2 separate regions of the Homo sapiens genome follow, and region 1 is linked to region 2. Evidence: fine-mapped expression QTL. Tissue or cell type: whole blood. Region 2 holds a variant in brackets; the other region holds the start of a gene. All regions are shown on one strand. Distances are from middle to middle.

Region 1 (8,177 bases), 40 kb before region 2:
GAACAACCTGGCTGGGCACAGGGGCTCACGCCTGTAATCCCAGCACTTTGGAAGGCCAAGGCAGGTGGATCATGAGGTCAGGAGATCGAGACCATCCTGGCTAACATGGTGAAACCCCGTCTTTACTGAAAATACAAAAAAATTAGCCAGACGTGGTGGCGGGCGCCTGTAGTCCCAGCTACTCGGGAGGCTGAGGCAGGAGAATGGCGTGAACTCGGAAGGTAGAGTTTGTAGTGAGCCAAGGTCGCACCACTGCACTCCAGCCTGGGCGACAGAGCGAGACTCCGTCTCAAAAAAAAAAAAGAAATAGAACAACTTGGCCAGGTGCAGTGGCGCACGCCTATAATCCCAGCACTTTGGGAGGCCAAGGCAGATGGATCACTTGAGGCCAGGAGTTTGAGAGCAGCCTGGCCAACATGGCGAAACCCTGTCTCTACTAAAAATACAAAAATTAGCAGGGCGTGGTGGCATGTGCCTGTAATCCCAGCTACTGGGGAGGCTAAGGCAGGAGAATCACTTGAACCTGGGAGGTGGAGGTTGCAGTGAGCCAAGATCACGCCACTGCACTCCAGCCTGGGCGACAGAGTAAGACTCTGTCTCAAAAAAATAAAAAGAAATAGAACAACTTTAGAGATCTAATGACCCAAGTTCAAATCCTAGCTCTTCCACTAACTCACAGTGTGACCTCCTCACATCCTATTCGTCCCTCGGTCAATCTTATCTGTTTTCTTCATCAAAACCCTGCAAGATAAGACTTAGTTCCCATTTTATAGATGAGGAAACTGAGGCTCCCTTACCCAAGATCACTCAGGCAGCGAGTGAAAGAGCCAGGGTGAGGTCCTGCTTCCTCCTGACTTCCAGCCTGAGCTCCACCAGCTCCACACTGGCTGCTTCTCAAATGCTAATGTAGGAGCCATTAATGTCTCCTTTAAGGGAACATTAAAGGAAATGGCCAGTATAACATGGTATTTATCTCCTGGTTTTTGGCTTGGCTCATGCCTGGAATCCCAACACTTTGGGAGGCCCAGGCACGAGGATCACTTGAGCCCAAGAGTTTGAGACCAGCCTGGGCAACATAGTGAGACCTCTGTCTGTACAAACAACAACAACAAAAAGGCCCAGTGGGCTGGGCGTGGTGGCTCAAGCCTGTAATCCCAGCATTTTGGGAGGCTGAGATCTCAGGCGGATCACCTGAGATCGGGAGTTCGAGACCAGCCTGACCATCATGGTGAAACCCCGTTTCTGCTAAAAATGCAAAATTAACCGGGCATGCTAGCGCATGCCTGTAATCCTAGCTACTCGGGACGCTGAGTCAGGAGAATCGCTTGAACCGGGGAGGCGGAGGTTGCGGTGAGCCAAGATCACACCATTGCACTCCAACCTGGGGAACAAAAGCGAAACTCAGTCTCAAAAAAAAAAAAAAAAAGTGCAGTGTCTCACACCTGCAATCCTAGGTTTCCCTTAAGGGAAACGTGAATATCTCCTGCAACTGCCCTCTCCGAGCCTAAACCCTCTGCACAGCAAATGCAGAAAACTCTTTCTACAGAGAGCTAGGTGGGCTGACTGGCCATGCCATCCTAGACTGGTGTACCTCAGGTCTCCTCTTCAAAAAATATCTTGAAATTCTTGCCAGAAATTCAGTGTGAAATGCATTCGGGATGGTGGCTGTTGTTATAACAGTCCCCAGGGGTCTCAATTACGTGAGAACCCTCGGCTTCTGGACAAGAGACAAGGAAGGGAAGTAGGTCACATCCCAAAGGCATCAGGGCTAATAACTTTGCATTGAACATTTTCTGTGGCCCCACTGTGTGCTAGGTGCCAGGGCTGTGGATACAGACACAGGTATAAATCAGACATGGCTTCTGCCCTTGGTAAGCTCACAATTACGGGCACAAATATGCAATGATAGTATAATATGGGAAGTGCCTCAGGAGGCTGAGGCAGCGAACTGCTTGAACCAGGGAGGAGGAGGTTACAGTGAACAGACATTACAGCACTGCACTCCAGCCTGGGTGACAGAGCAAGACTTCGTCTCAAAAAAAAAAAAAAAAAATTCCTGGAAGACTTGTTGCCTAATTTTAAGTTACTTAACTTCTCTGTATCTCCATTGCTTCATCTGTAAAACGGGCGTAATTACAGAACCAGCCTCACAAGGGTTGTGAAAATGTAATGAGTAACTACATAAAAAGCACACAACAGGCTAGGCATGGTGGCTCACACCTGTCATCCCAGCACTTTGGGAGGCCAAGGCGGGACGATTGCCTAAGCCCAGGAGTTCAAGACCAGCCTGGGCAACAGAGCAAGATCCCATCTCTACAAAAAAGAAGCAGCTAGCTAGGTGCGGTAGCACGCACCTGTGGTTCCAGCTACTTGGGAGGCTGAGGCAGGAGGATACCATGAGCCCGGGAGGTCAAGGCTGCAGTGAGCTATGATTGTGCTACTGAAGCAGGACACACAAGCCCCAAAATTTAGCCTCCTTCCTTCAGAGCCAGCAGGAGCTTCTAAGCTATGGGGGGCAGCAGTTACAGCTGAGTCAAACCAAAGCCTGCAGCCAAGGGCAAGGAGCTGATAACACTAGGGTGGGTGTGTGGGGAAGGAGCCAAATACTTCTACCATGTGAGGGGAGGGAGTACTGGGCAGGGTCACTGGAGAAAGCGAAAAAGGTAGTACCCTTGAAGGTACTGCTGGGCACAGTGGCTCATGTCTGTAATTCCAGGACTTTGAGAGGTCAAGGCAGGCTTATCACCTGAGGTCAGGAGTTCGAGACCAGCCTGGCCAATGTGGTGAAATCCCATATCTACTAAAAATGCAAAAATTAGCTGGGCGTGGTGATGCACACCTGTAGTCCCAGCTACTTGGGACTCGGGAGGCTGAGGCACAAGAATCACTTGCATCTGGGTGGCAGAGGTGGCAGTGAGCAGAGATCACGCCACTGCACTCCAGCCTGGGTGACAGAGTGAGACTCTTGTCAAAAAAAAAGGAAGGTCTACCTTAAACAGCTGTTCTCCAGCAAAAGCACTTTTCAAACTGTAAAGTGCTGAAATAGATCTCGGTTATGAGTGTTCTATTACATCCCTAACTTTTGAGTCCCTTCCATTGAATCCCTCTCCCGTTTCCTGTCCCTTTTCCTTTTTTTTTTTTCCGAGATACAGTCTTGCTCTGTCACCCAGGCTGGAGCGCAGTGGTGCGATCTCGGCTTGCTGCAACCTCCGCCTCCTGGGTTCAAGCGATTCTCCTGCCTCAGCCTCCGGAGTAGCTGGGATTACAGGCACGCGCCACCATGCCGGGTTAATTTTTGTAGTTTTATTAGAGACGGGGTTTCACCATGTTGGCCAGGCTGGTCTCTAATTCTTGACCTCGTGATCCGCCCGCCTCGGCCTCCCAAAGTGCTGGGATTGCAGGCGTGAGCCACCGTGCCCAGCCTCCTGCCCCTTTTCTTCAATATGAAGATAAAGCTGCCCCTGGCTGTACTGGAGGCCAATTCCGGGCCATAGCAGGAGGAACTGAGTTCTAATTCTGTCTTTGCCATGTAACTGAATTACCCAGGGCCCTCCCTAGTCCTGTTTCCTCTTTGGTGTAATAGGGATGAATACAGATGGGAAGATCGTGATATGAAAGAGTTCTGTGAGCTGTAAGGCATAATAATCATGAGGTATTATTACAGGACCAACAGGTGCCTAGGCCCGCTGTGCAATAACAGACCAGTTACACTGAGGAAGCAGGGTTATCAGCAGAAAAAGGGTTTAAAGATGGCAGGGTGCCTAGGAGGAGACGCAGGGAGACCAACAAATCCATCTTCCCCAAGGAGTTCCGGGCTGGGATTTTAAAGGGCATTGTGAAGGGTGAGGGGCTGGAAAATTGGGGTCATCGACTGGTCAGGGTAAGGGGGTTGAAATCCTCAGGATATGGAAACTGCAGTCCCCATTGAGTCTTGCTTCTGTGGGCTCCTTCAGAACAACTGGTGTCAGTAATTATGCTGGTATGCGGGACCTGAAAGAATATCTCCAAGGGAAAACGTTTCATAATGTTCAAGTTGTTATCTATGGAGTTAAGGGGAATTGTAATCTTGTGACAGGGTCTACGTGATTCTAGGACAGACGATGGGCACCTATCATAGCTGATACACAGAGCTATGAGCAAGCAGGTCGGAGAGCAAGGTGACCTAGTGATGAACGCAGAGTGTGCTGCAAGCTTCGTTTATTTTCGTTTTTCCCCCTCCCTTCTTCCCTGATTAATTTCCTAAAGTTTATAGGAGCAGTTTCAGTACCAGCCCGAGTAGGATGGAATCAAACACGGTGCTGGAACATTCCTACCCGGAAGTGGCCCCGACCCCCCTCCCCCCGTCCCGGCCTCCCACGCACGGGGGGGGGGGGGGGGGGGGCTGATCGGCGCTACCGGATTGGACAACTTGGCATGGGGCGGGGCCTCTGGGAGGCGTGGCCTCCGGCCGGCTCCTCTGCTGTTGCCAAGGGAAACTGCCGCGAGGAGGCGGAAGGAGCAGAGGACCGGCAGCCGGCGTCGAGGCGGGGCGCGGGAACGACGGCGGCCATGGCGGCCTCGGGGCCCGGGTGTCGCAGCTGGTGCTTGTGTCCCGAGGTGCCATCCGCCACCTTCTTCACTGCGCTGCTCTCGCTGCTGGTTTCCGGGCCTCGCCTGTTCCTGCTGCAGCAGCCCCTGGCGCCCTCGGGCCTCACGCTGAAGTCCGAGGCCCTTCGCAACTGGCAAGGTGAGCAGGGGCGGGCCGGGATCGCGGGGCGAGTCCTTGTCCTCCGACTTTGCCGGTTCCTGGGCTCTAGCCTCCGGGACTCGCCCCTTCAGGCCTCACCGCCAGTCTCCCCCTGTCTCGGTCCTCATCACCATGCCCGCCCCCCGGAGGACCGACCTCCAGCACCGTCTCTTGCTCTCCGTGTTCCACACCTTTGTCTGCAGACCCCATCTTCGTCATCACTGTAATCCCTTCCCTACCCGAATTTGTTCCCTTCCCTGTCGCCACCAGACTGGTTAAGGCCCCAAATCCATTCGCTAGCAAATCCATGCTCGCTCTCCAAGGGTAAAGATTTTTCGTCTCCCCCTCCCATTTCACATACACACCTACGTCTGCTTTAGGCCTAAGCCCCACTGAAAAACGTTTTTCTCTCACCTACATCACGACAATTGGACTTTATCCACAAACCCCTATAAGCCCTATAAACGTCCTGCCCTCTTGAGATTTGGAATTTCTTCTGCTTTTTCATCTGTATCTTAATCTTGACTGCCATTCCCAGCTCATGGGGGTACCAGGGTGTCTTCTGCCTTTGGAGAGAAGTGTTTGTTTTTCTCTAGGGGAGAGAAATTTTGCAGACCAATTAAGTATAAACATCCATTCCTGAAAGACATTCCTAGTCTCCGTGTCTTCCTCATTTTCTCGAGAGGAACACAGGAAATTTGCATATCTCCTGCTGTTTTGCAAAGCACACACACTGATATGTATTAATTTCGTTTAACCCTCACAAGGATCCCATGACGTAGGACCTGTTATTGGCCCGTTATCTAGATAAGATTGAGGTTTCATGCAGAGAATCGCAGAGCTGTTGCGTCATGCAATTGAGATAGGAATCTATATTTTTTTTTTTATTCTGTGATGTTTTGGAACTAGAGCCTTCGGGTAGATAATCTCCAAATCATGTACAGTTGCTTCTAGAATCTTTTCATGTTTATACTTGGAATTTCAGTTTTGGAAATACTCAACAAATAATGAAGTACTCTTCAGATAATGAAGCCTCTGGTGATGGCCAGACTGAGGTATATGGTTCCATAGCCTGCTTCCCCACTCCAATCTAAAACTGTTCCCCCCACCCTAGGTATACATAGCACCACCTCACAGACAGAAGCAAAATGCCAACCTAACCTTAACCTCCCACTTTCTGGGGTTCACTGCTTCCCTGGGTGTGGGTTTCGTGGATATGTGAGCGTTAGAGACGTAAGGGACCTTTGAAGTCCTCAATCTAACTCTTGTTACTTTACAGTGAGGAAACTGACGCCTAGAGGACCTGTGACATGATTAAACTCAGCCAGCCTGGATGTAATAGAGCCAAGATTCCACTCCAAGTCTTTAGACTCCCAAGTCCAATATTACCATCAGTTCTTTGGTCTCTCTCCTTGAGTTTAGTCGTATTTGGGCATGCAGGGACATAAAAATACTTAAGAGATAACCACTTCTAAAATTTTTTTAGAGATAGGGTCTTCGTCTTACCCAGGCTGGAGTGCAGAGATGCAATCATAGCTCACTGCAGCGTTCAACTCCTGGAATCAAGCGAGCCTCCTGCCTCAGCCTCCCAAGTAGCTGGGACTACAAGTACACATCATCACACCTGACTAATTTTTAAATTTTTTTTAAAGACGGGGGTCTCACTATGTTACCTAGGCTGGTCTTGAACTCCTGGGCTCAAGTGATCCTTCCACCTAAGCCTCCCAAAATGCTGGGATTACAGGTGTGAGCCACCATGCCTGGCGATAACTGCTTTTAGAAAAATAAAAGGCCAGGAATGATGGTTCGTATGTGTAGTTTCAGCACTTTGGGAATTCAAGGCAGGAGGATCACTGGAGGCCAGGAGTTCAAGGCTAGCCTGGGCAACGTAGCAAGACTTTGTCTCTACAAATAAAAATTTAAAAAAAGGAAAAGGAGGATTCTTTGATGTCTTATTACATATAAAGCATCAGTTTACCTGTGAGATCGGATAAGCACTTTCTGAGGAGACTTATAATTTCTATAATCTTTATTGTTAATGATAGTGTTATAATTCTTACAGCTGCAAAATAATTCATGGTCCCTTTTTTCTTCCTCTGAACAGCCACTATGGAAGGAGGGGTCAGGATTACAGCAGAGGAGACTGGCACACAGAGTGTTAAGTGACACCCACTCAATCCACCCCGAAGCTGTTACACTTAATTAACCCTCAAACTGCCCAGTGAGGTAGGTCAGTATGAAAACCTGAAAAAGGATTATAAAGCACTTTACAAATTCAGAGACTGCCCTCTACCGAAAAGTATTATTTTTTTCCCTCTGGAAGTCAGTTACCGCTAAGAGTTGCACCAGGCCTGGGGAAGTGTAGGGATTAGATATTCATGCCTCTCCTTTGAGGCTCTGGGTCCTTCATTGTTGAACGCACTGCTTGTATTGCCTCCTGCTGCGACTCACTGGCTCTCACTTCTCTGTCACGGAGGGGGGCTCTCTGCCTTTCCTAGGCGGCTTATAACCTGGCTTCCCTCCTGGGAGCAACCCGCCGCCAGGCCTCTAACCCGACTCCCTCTGCAGTTTACAGGCTGGTAACCTACATCTTTGTCTACGAGAATCCCATCTCCCTGCTCTGCGGCGCTATCATCATCTGGCGCTTTGCTGGCAATTTCGAGAGAACCGTGGGCACCGTCCGCCACTGCTTCTTCACCGTGATCTTCGCCATCTTCTCCGCTATCATCTTCCTGTCATTCGAGGCTGTGTCATCACTGTCAAAGCTGGGGGAAGTGGAGGATGCCAGAGGTTTCACCCCAGTGGCCTTTGCCATGCTGGGAGTCACCACCGTCCGTTCTCGGATGAGGCGGGCCCTGGTGTTTGGCATGGTTGTGCCCTCAGTCCTGGTTCCGTGGCTCCTGCTGGGTGCCTCGTGGCTCATTCCCCAGACCTCTTTCCTCAGTAATGTCTGCGGGCTGTCCATCGGGCTGGCCTGTATCCTTCCTAGCAGAGAGCTATAGAACAACGCATGTCAAAGGGTGAACCAGGCTGGAGGGTCTGGGGTGTCAAGTAGATAAAATTGGGCTTACTTTGTATTTTTTCGAAACAGAGTCTCTGTCACCCAGGCTGGAGTGCAGTGGCAGGATCTCAACTCACTGCAACCTCTGCCTCCTGGGCTCAAGCAATCCTGCCTCAGCCCCCTGAGTAGCTGGGACTACAGGTGTGCACCACTACACCCGGCTAATTTTTATATTTTCTTTTTAGTAGACACAGGGTTTCACCATGTTGCCCAGGCTGGTCTTGAACTCCTGGTCTCAGGTGATCTACCCACCGTGGCCTCCCAAAGTGCTAGGATTACAGGTGTGAGCCACCGTGGCCGAGTCATATCTGATCATAATTTTTTTTTACTTTTTTTTTCATATCTGGTAATTTTTTATTTTATGCTAGACACTGAATGCTGTATTAGGGG
Region 2 (8,177 bases):
ACCACTGCAATCCAGCCTGGGCGACAGAACGAGACCCTGTCTCTAAAAACAAACGCGCGCCCTCCGCCGTCAGGCTGGATGGAGGGAACCCAGGGAGACGACTTGGGCCTGAAGCCTCGCCAATTTCAGGTGAGGAAACAGGGCCGTGGAGGAGACAATGTGGCGATCACAAGCAAGCGGCGGCCCGAAGGAGGAGGCTAGACCGGCGGGCGCACAGCCACAGTTCTGCAGTGATCCCCGGGAAGGTGGGCAGCCGGCCCGGTGACCTGCAGGGTCCGAGCTGTAGAAGCCGCAGCCGCCGTCTCCAGGCGACTCCGCCACCCCCGGAACCACGCACTTTCATTTCTCTGCCGGGCGACCCAGCCGAGCCGCGAGGGGGCGTGGCCGGGCCGGGCCGTACCAAGAGCGCAAATTTGCAGGGGGAAGCGCGGGGCTCCGGGAATGCACGCGCGGCTCGAGTGGGCGGGGCGGCGGCCCAATGGCCACGCCCCCACCCCCGCGGCCGGCGAAGGCGGTGGTAGCGCCTCAGTGGTGTGGGCCTGAGCCCTGCCCAGGTGCCCGCAGAGAGCAGCCGGGCTGCCAGCGGTGAGTGCTATCTTTCGCGGCGACGGCGGGGTGGGTGAGGTCGGGCCCCAAGACTCGGGGTTTGCCGGGCGCCTCAGTTCACCGCGGCCGCCTGGCTCTCTGCGTCGGGGTGGGCCCTCGGGCCTGGGCACTGCGCGTCTGGCCCGACGCTCGGGCGGAAGGCATGGCTCCCACCCCGGCCCTCCTCCGCGTCGCCCTTCCCCTAGAGCTGATCTCCCGCGGCGGCCTGAGGGTCGACTTTTCCACAGCTTGGGCCGAGAGAGCCCGGCAGGCCCTCGGCTGAGGGTTAGGGCTCGGTATCTCAGGGCTCGGGGTCCAGTCCCCGCGCCGCCGCCCCCCACGGGCTAAGCCACTTTAACTCTCCGAGCCTCAGTTTCCCCATCTGTACGATGAATGGGCCTCGGGAGGCAGCGAATTCTGGGGGTACCTAACGTGAGAGGCGCTCGATGCATGCTCATGGGACCCGAATCTAACCCTGCAGCATCAGGTGGGCTGAGTCGATGGATCACGGGAGCCCCCCAGCCCGGCCTGCATCCCTGAGGGCAGTGCCCCTCGCAGTCAGGTGTCTCGGCGGCCCCCACAACACAGGTACCCGGATCTCCTGGGGGAGCCGGGACACCCTTAGATCGGGGGAGCAATTGGGTAAGAGTTCAAGGTCTCTTGGGCGCCAGGGGGAGGAGAGTAGAGGTTTCAGTGAGCTTGATTGACTTCGACTTTCTGCGTATTGTTTTTCAAAACGAGTTACCCTTGTGTAAACTGGTGACCACTAATAAGGAGTTTGGGGCTGTTTCAATGAAAGTGGCTGTCTCCTCTCTTAAACCCTTAAAGCTGCAGCCTTGCCTTGCCTTGCCTCTGAGCTTGGCCAAGCTGGAGAATGATGCCAGCACAAAAGGAGACAGGACTGGACTGGGTGGCCCTGGTTTGATTCTTGGCAAGCAAGATACCTCCTGGAGCCTCCGTTTTCTGATCAGTGGGTCTGGTAGTAAGACAGCCACCCTGCTCTCCCCACAGGGTTGAGATTCTGAGGATCAAGACAGGGTCCCAGAGAGTGGCATCGAGAACTTTAATCCTCCTTGTAAGCAGAACGTTTATGGAACCCTCTGGGGGATCCAGTATCCCCACCGTTGTTCACTGCTGTAATTCCTTGGGTCTTGCTTTATGGAGAAGGCATTGATTCATTAACCATTTGCAAGTTCTACCTACGGAAATCCCTTTTGAGTGGTTATGGGGTTGGCTTGGTCAGGAGAACAGCTCCAAAGGCCCAGTTAGTAAACCAGGGAACCCAGAAAGGTCCACTTCCTTTTTTTTGGGAGGAGGGCTGTTTTAGGAGTTCTTATTTTCCTTTTAAGAGAGTGGTTTTTGAGCTACTTATGACCTTCATGCCATCTAATGTTGGAAACTTTCGCTGAGCAGATAGCTTATTATAAAAAGTATTTGTACAACATCCGCATTTCAGAGAATGGGATGCTAGCTGCCAGTTGCGTGGTGGTGTGGAAACTTAGGAGTGATCTTAATTTTCCAAAATTCTTCAGGTCTAGCACTTGAAGAAATAATAGGTAGATTTGAAATGAAACAACCCAGGGATATTCCTGAAAACAGCAGCATTGACCGCAGCCAATGTAAATCAGGTGTGGATCGTCCTGGGTAGTAGGAGTTTATAAATGCCACAGAGGATGTTTGCTGCCAGACATACCTGAATTTTAGGACCTGCTGTTGGTTAACTCTGGGTTGATCCACCCTTAACCCCTTGAAAATCAGAATCTGTGTTAGGTAAGTCTGTGTATGATTAGGAGACAGGCCAATTGAAATCAAAACTGCTTGGCAAATCCAGAACATTTACTCGTGAAGTCCATGGAACATTTCAAGTTAAAAATAATTTAGCTTTTAAGTAACTTTTTTTTTTTTGTGAGACAGGTCTCACTCTGTCGTGCAGGCTGGAGTGCAGTGGCGCAATCATAGCTCACTGCAGCCTCAACCTCCAGGATTCAAGCAATCCTCCCTCCTCAGCCTCCCAAGTAGTTGGGAGTACAGGCACGCACCACCACACCCAGCTAATTTTTTAAATGTTTTTTAGAGATTTGGTTTGCCATGTTGCCCAGGCTGGTCTCGAATTCTGGGGTTCAAGTGGTCCTCCTGCTTTGACCTCCTAAAGTGCTGAGATTACAGGTGTGAGCCACCGTTCCTGGCTTTCTTATTTCTTCTTCTTTTTTTTTTTTTTTTTTCTGATGGAAGCTCTTGAAGTTATAGGACCTTTCATGGTTCCAGAGAGGCTGGCCGCCCCTACAAGAGCTTCGATGTCCTTGTGCTTTAGGGAGGAGCCAGAGAAACAGAGGTCAAGCTCTGGCACTAGCACCGTGTGTGGCCTCAATTGAGCATGTTGGGATTTAACTTTCTGTTATATGTCAGACTCACTTAAAAATTAAAGTTAGAAAAAGGTGAAATGGAGAAATGACAATTTTCTTTTCTTTTCTTTTCTTTTTTTGAGATGGAGTCTCGCTCTGTCGCCCAGGCTGGAGCGCAGTGGGCTCAGTGCAGCCTCCACCTCCCCCAGGTTCAAGCAATTTTCCTTGCTTGAATTCTGCCTCAGCCTCCTGAGTAGCTGGAATTTCGAGTACCCACCACCTGGCCAAAGATTCTGTGCTCATTAGCACACAGCCTCCCAGGTGGCTACAGCCTTAAAAGACTTTCAAATGCCAATTCTAGGCTGGGAACAGTGGCTCACGCCTGTAATTCCGGCACTTTGGGAGACCAAGGTGGGTGAATTGCTTGAGTCCAGGAGTTTGAGACCAGCCTGGGCAACACGGCGAATCCCTGTCTCTATAAAAAAAATACAAATACAAAAATTGACTGGGCATGGTGGCTCACGCCTGTAATCCCAGCACTTTGGGAGGCCGAGGCAGGCAGATCACTTGAGGTCAGGAGTTCGAGACCAGCCTGGCCAACGTGGTGAAACCCCGTCTCTACTAAAAATACAAAAATTAGCCGGTGTGGTGGTGTGCACCTGTAATCCCAACTACTCAGGAGGCTGAGGCAGAAGAATCACTTGAACCTGGGAAGCGGAGGTTGCAGTGAGCCGAGATCGTGCTGCTGCACTCCAGCCTGGGTGACAGAGTGAGACTCTGTCTCAGAAAAAAAAACCCAAAAAACAACAACTTGTTTTGCTGTGCAGTTTTGTCATCTGGCATTGGGCAGAAATTTGGACCCGCCGGGCAGGTGGGAGAAGCATCTGAGTCAGAGGTCACTTACCTGCTTGCATAGGCCGCTGACCTATACCAAGCCTTAGTTTCTTCATCACTAAAGTCAGAGAAAGAACCCACTCCACCTGCCTCTGGGACAGCTCAGAACATGTTAACCCTTTCAGCAGTGGGTCCTTCTTCATCTTCTTGGCGCTGTTTGGATCCCTGTAGCGTGACACATAAAAAAGCACACATCCGGCCTTAGGATATGTGTAGGCTCTGGTTTGGGCACTTGAGAACTCTCACAGGGAGGGAAGCAAGCATACAATTCAACAAGAATGGCACGGTGTGTTGCATTCATTCTCAAGATGATGGGGTGAGGCTTTTATTAGTGCTGAGCCTGCTGTTTGTTTCCACAGCAGGGCTCCAGGGGAGAGGTGATGTTTGAGTTGGGTCTTGGAGGATTGCTAGGAGTTCTCTGAGCCCACCCAGGCACACCAGCTCTGGGGGGCATGTAGGGTGTAGATTGCATGAGGCTGAGGTCGCGTGGTGGCACTTGTCTGAAATGGTCCTAGGAACCATGGGAAGAGATGGGGAGGTG[T/C]TTTAAAAGGTCAGGGCTATGTGACTAGCTCAGATCAGTGTTGTGTGTTTTTTTTTTTTTTAGACAGAGTCTCACTCTGTCACCCAGGCTGGAGTGCAGTGGTGTGATCTTGGCTCACTGCAACCTCTGTCTCCTGGGTTCAAGCAATTCTTGTGCCTCAGCCTCCCGAGTAGCTAGGATTACAGGCACCGGCCACCATGTCTGGCTCAGGACAGTGTTTTCTTGTACTGAATATTCTCTTACTGCCTAATATCCTCTCTGGGTGAATGAACAACCATTTGGGAAATTTTTACTGTGTCTAAATTTGTAATCATACTGTTTTAGAGCTCTACATCTTAAAAGTTTTTCCTCCCCAAGCGAGATGTTTACATCAGTTGTGTTCTTGTTGGGATTAGTGTGCACACGCCTGTCTGCATCTGTGCGTGCGTGTGTGTGTGTGTGTGTGTGTGTGTATGCATATAAGAGGGAGAGAAGATGGAGGAATTCCATGGGGGCAGACCATGGTTCTTTGCAGATTGGTGGCTCCAGTTGGTTGGGTTCACTGGAGCCACGTTCATCAGTTTGTTTCTTTCTTTCCTTTTCTCTCTCTGTATGTTTATTTATTTATTTATTATTTGTAGAAGTGGGGTCTGGCTATGTTGCCCAGGCTAGTTTCAAACTCCTGGCCTCAAGTGAGCCTCCTATCTCAGCCTCCCAAAACGCTGGGATTACAGGCATGAGCCACCGCGCCCAGCCCAGTAACTGTTACTCCTGACGCTGGTCGGTGTGGCAACTCAGTTGATGCTTGGACGTGTTGTGAACAAAGCCCCGGGGAACCTGATCCTTCTGGTGGCTTGTGCAGCAAACTGTTGATGTGGGAAGCTTATTTATTTCACTTGTTAAAGAGGTGACTTGGATAGGGGGATATCTAAGAATTGTCCTTTCATTGGAGTGCTGGAGGGTGTGGCATTCGGATCTCCTTTGTGCAGCATCTGTACCTAGCTGAGAGAATTGTACACATAATTTCCCGAAATGCGTCAGTTTCAAGGCTAACTTAGAATATGTTGGTGGCCAGACTGTGGTGCTGTCAGCTGTGGACTGTTCTCCAAGAGTTGAATTTCTTTTTTTTTTTTTTTTTTTTTTTTTTTGAGACAGAGTCTGACTCTCTCGCCTAGGCTGGAGTGCAGTGGTGTGATCTTGGCTCACTGCAACCTCTGCCTTCCAGGTTCAAGCAATTCTTCTGCCTCAGCCTCCCAAGTAGCTGGGATTACAGGCGCGTGCCATCACGCCCGGCTAATTTTTTTTTGTATTTTTAGTAGAGATGAGGTTTCACTGTGTTGGCCAGGCTGGTTTCAAACTCCTGACCTCAAGTGATCCACCCGCCTCAGCCTCCCAAAGTGCTAGGATTACCAGGCGTGAGCCACCATGTCCAGCTTATAAGAATTGAATTCTTTAGGAGACATTTGGTAGGAGAATAGAAGGGGGAAAGTTGCCTTTTGTCTACTTGGATGTAGTAATGAGGAGGAAGATGGGGCATTGTGGGGCGTGTCCTCTAACTTGGAACAGATGTAATTTATTTCTAGGTGAAAGTTAAGAACAGTGCTTACTCATTCTATTTATCTGCCCTCCTTTTATCTTCGGCACTTTTTCCTACAGCCCTGTTTCTGAGCTCACGTCACATCACCTCTGCGGTGGTGATGCCGGTGTTCTTAGAGCACTGTGTCCTAGTGATACTTTGATCTTCGTGGGCATGCATCATCAGTGCATTGGGTAAGCCGGGCCTGTACAAAGGTTTGCAGGTTTGGTTAGGAACACGTGAACTACGGTCACCTTTCTGAACTTTCTGAACTCATATGTAGTGACCATAGGTCACCTGGGTTGAGTTTTCAACACTGCAAACAGGGATGGCAGTTCTTGAATACACAGGAGAGTGCATTAGCCAGTGGTGCCCGGCATCATTCAGAGTGCAGTTTGGCATCAGGAATGTTCCGTCAGGTATTTGTGGTCTTGTGGAGAAAAGCCACTGTTGGTTTTGGTGAAGGGCTTCAGACCCTTTGACTGCTCATGAAACCACACAGTCTTAACATGGACACGTTGGACGCGTTCCTTACGTAACGTGATTTGCAAACTCAGGAGTCATTCAGCGTCACAGCAGTGATCAAAAGCTCCCAGCCCATCTACCCGAAACCTCCACAACAAGAGCTCTATCTGTCAGTGGCCTCACCGACTTCCTGGGCCCTGAAGCTCCAAGGACAAAAGACTCCTGTCCCTTTTCCCTTCCTCTCCATTCTGGGTCTCCCACCACCACCAAGTCCTGTAAGTTTTTAGTCTTTTTTTTTTTTTTTTTTTGAGACAGATTCTTGCTCTGTTGTTCAGAGTGCAGTGACACAATCTCAGCTCACTGCAACCTCTGCCTCCCAGGTTCAAGTGATTCTCCTGCCTCAGCTTCCCGAGTAGCTGGGATTATAGGTGCGCGGCACCGCGCCCAGCTAATTTTTGTATTTTTAGTAGAGACAGGGTTTCACTGTGTTGGCCAGGCTGGTCTCGAACTCCTGACCTCAGGCGATCTGCCTGCCTCGGCCTCCCAAAGTGCTGGGATTACAGCAGGCGTGAGCCACCACGCCCGGCCCTTTAAATCTCTTTCCACTGCTGTGGTCTTACTGTAGCCCCTTGTCACTTCCTGCTGCGCTGACCCGTAATTGACCCATAATTCTCCCTCTCTTCCCCTCCCTACCACGTTCCAAGATCTGTCCATGGTACCATTGCTGGTTGATCTTGGAACCCTGCTTCGGTCACCCCTCCTTTCTCTTCGCCCAGACTGGAGTGCAGTGGCACGATTTGGCTCACTGCAACCTCCACCTGTCAGGTTCAAGTGATTCTCCTGCCTCAGCCTCCCGAGTAGCTGGCACTACAGGCACGTGCCTCCACACCTAGCTAATTTTTGTATTTCTAGTAGAGACAGGGTTTCACCATGTTGGCCAGGCCAGTCTCGAACTCCTGGCCTTAAGTGGTCCACCCAGCTCAGCCTCCCAAAGTGCTGGGATAATAGGCAGGAGCCACTGTGCCCGGTCACTGTCACTGTCTTATTGCATGTTTTCTTCTTCATCTGCTTTCATAAAGGATAAACAGTGACTTAATAAAAGGTGTCTAATTCTCCCCTCCCTAGTGGCAATACGGTTGGACTAGAAGGTGAATTCAGTTGAGAACAGGGAACCTATCATTTCTGCGAGTGTAAGCTGGGGCATAGAACAATGCCAGGCATAAGGTAGGCACTTGGATGAATGGATGAATGAATAAATATGGCTTCTGTCCCCCAAGTTTACTGCTGAGCTTTCTCCTGCATATTGACTGAGCTCAGATGTCAAAATTGGGTCTGATCTGTAGTTTTTTTTTTTTTTTTTTTTGAGACAGAGCCTGTCACTCTGTCGCCCAGGCTGGAGTGCAGTGGCGCAATCTTGGCTCACTGCAACCTCTGCCTCCTGGGTTCAAGCAATTCTCGTGCCTCAACCTCCTGAGTAGCTGGAATTATAGGTGTGTGCCATCATGCCTGGCTAATTTTTTGTAATTTTAGTACAGATGGGGTTTCACCATGTTGCCCAGCTGGTCTCGAATGCCTGACCTGAAGCAGTCTGCCCGCCTCGGCCTTCCGAAGTGCTGGGATTACAGGCGTGAGCCACTGCGCCTGGCCTGGTCTGTACTTCTGAAGATTATTCCAAAGTACAGTAGGAACTTTTGGTAGGACTTTAGTTTTCCATCCAGGTATAAAATTTTGTGTCAGTGGTGGGGTTGCGCATGTTCAGTAGCTGCAACACTAGAAAGATGGCAAAGCAGGAGCA

What was found. PIP is the estimated chance that this variant, and not a neighbour inherited with it, causes the effect.
Region 1: RHBDD2 starts here. The variant in region 2 is fine-mapped to the expression of RHBDD2 in whole blood (TOPMed, PIP above 0.99).

What each region holds. Positions count from the first base shown.
Region 1 is chr7:75,874,535-75,882,711 of GRCh38, forward strand. RHBDD2 (rhomboid domain containing 2) reads left to right here and starts at 4,500. Exons shown (of 4, transcript NM_001040456.3): 1 at 4,500-4,726; 2 at 7,295-7,702. The coding sequence starts at 4,549. RefSeq lists an enhancer at 4,196-4,804 and silencers at 4,351-4,600, 4,701-4,880.
Region 2 is chr7:75,914,595-75,922,771 of GRCh38, forward strand. POR (cytochrome p450 oxidoreductase) reads left to right here and starts at 561. Exons shown (of 16, transcript NM_001395413.1): 1 at 561-585. It overlaps MIR4651 (microRNA 4651), which reads left to right and starts at 603; the gene lies at 603-675. It also overlaps the pseudogene RPL7L1P3. RefSeq lists an enhancer at 1-18 and a silencer at 279-768. The variant T/C (reference allele first, on the strand shown) is at 4,363.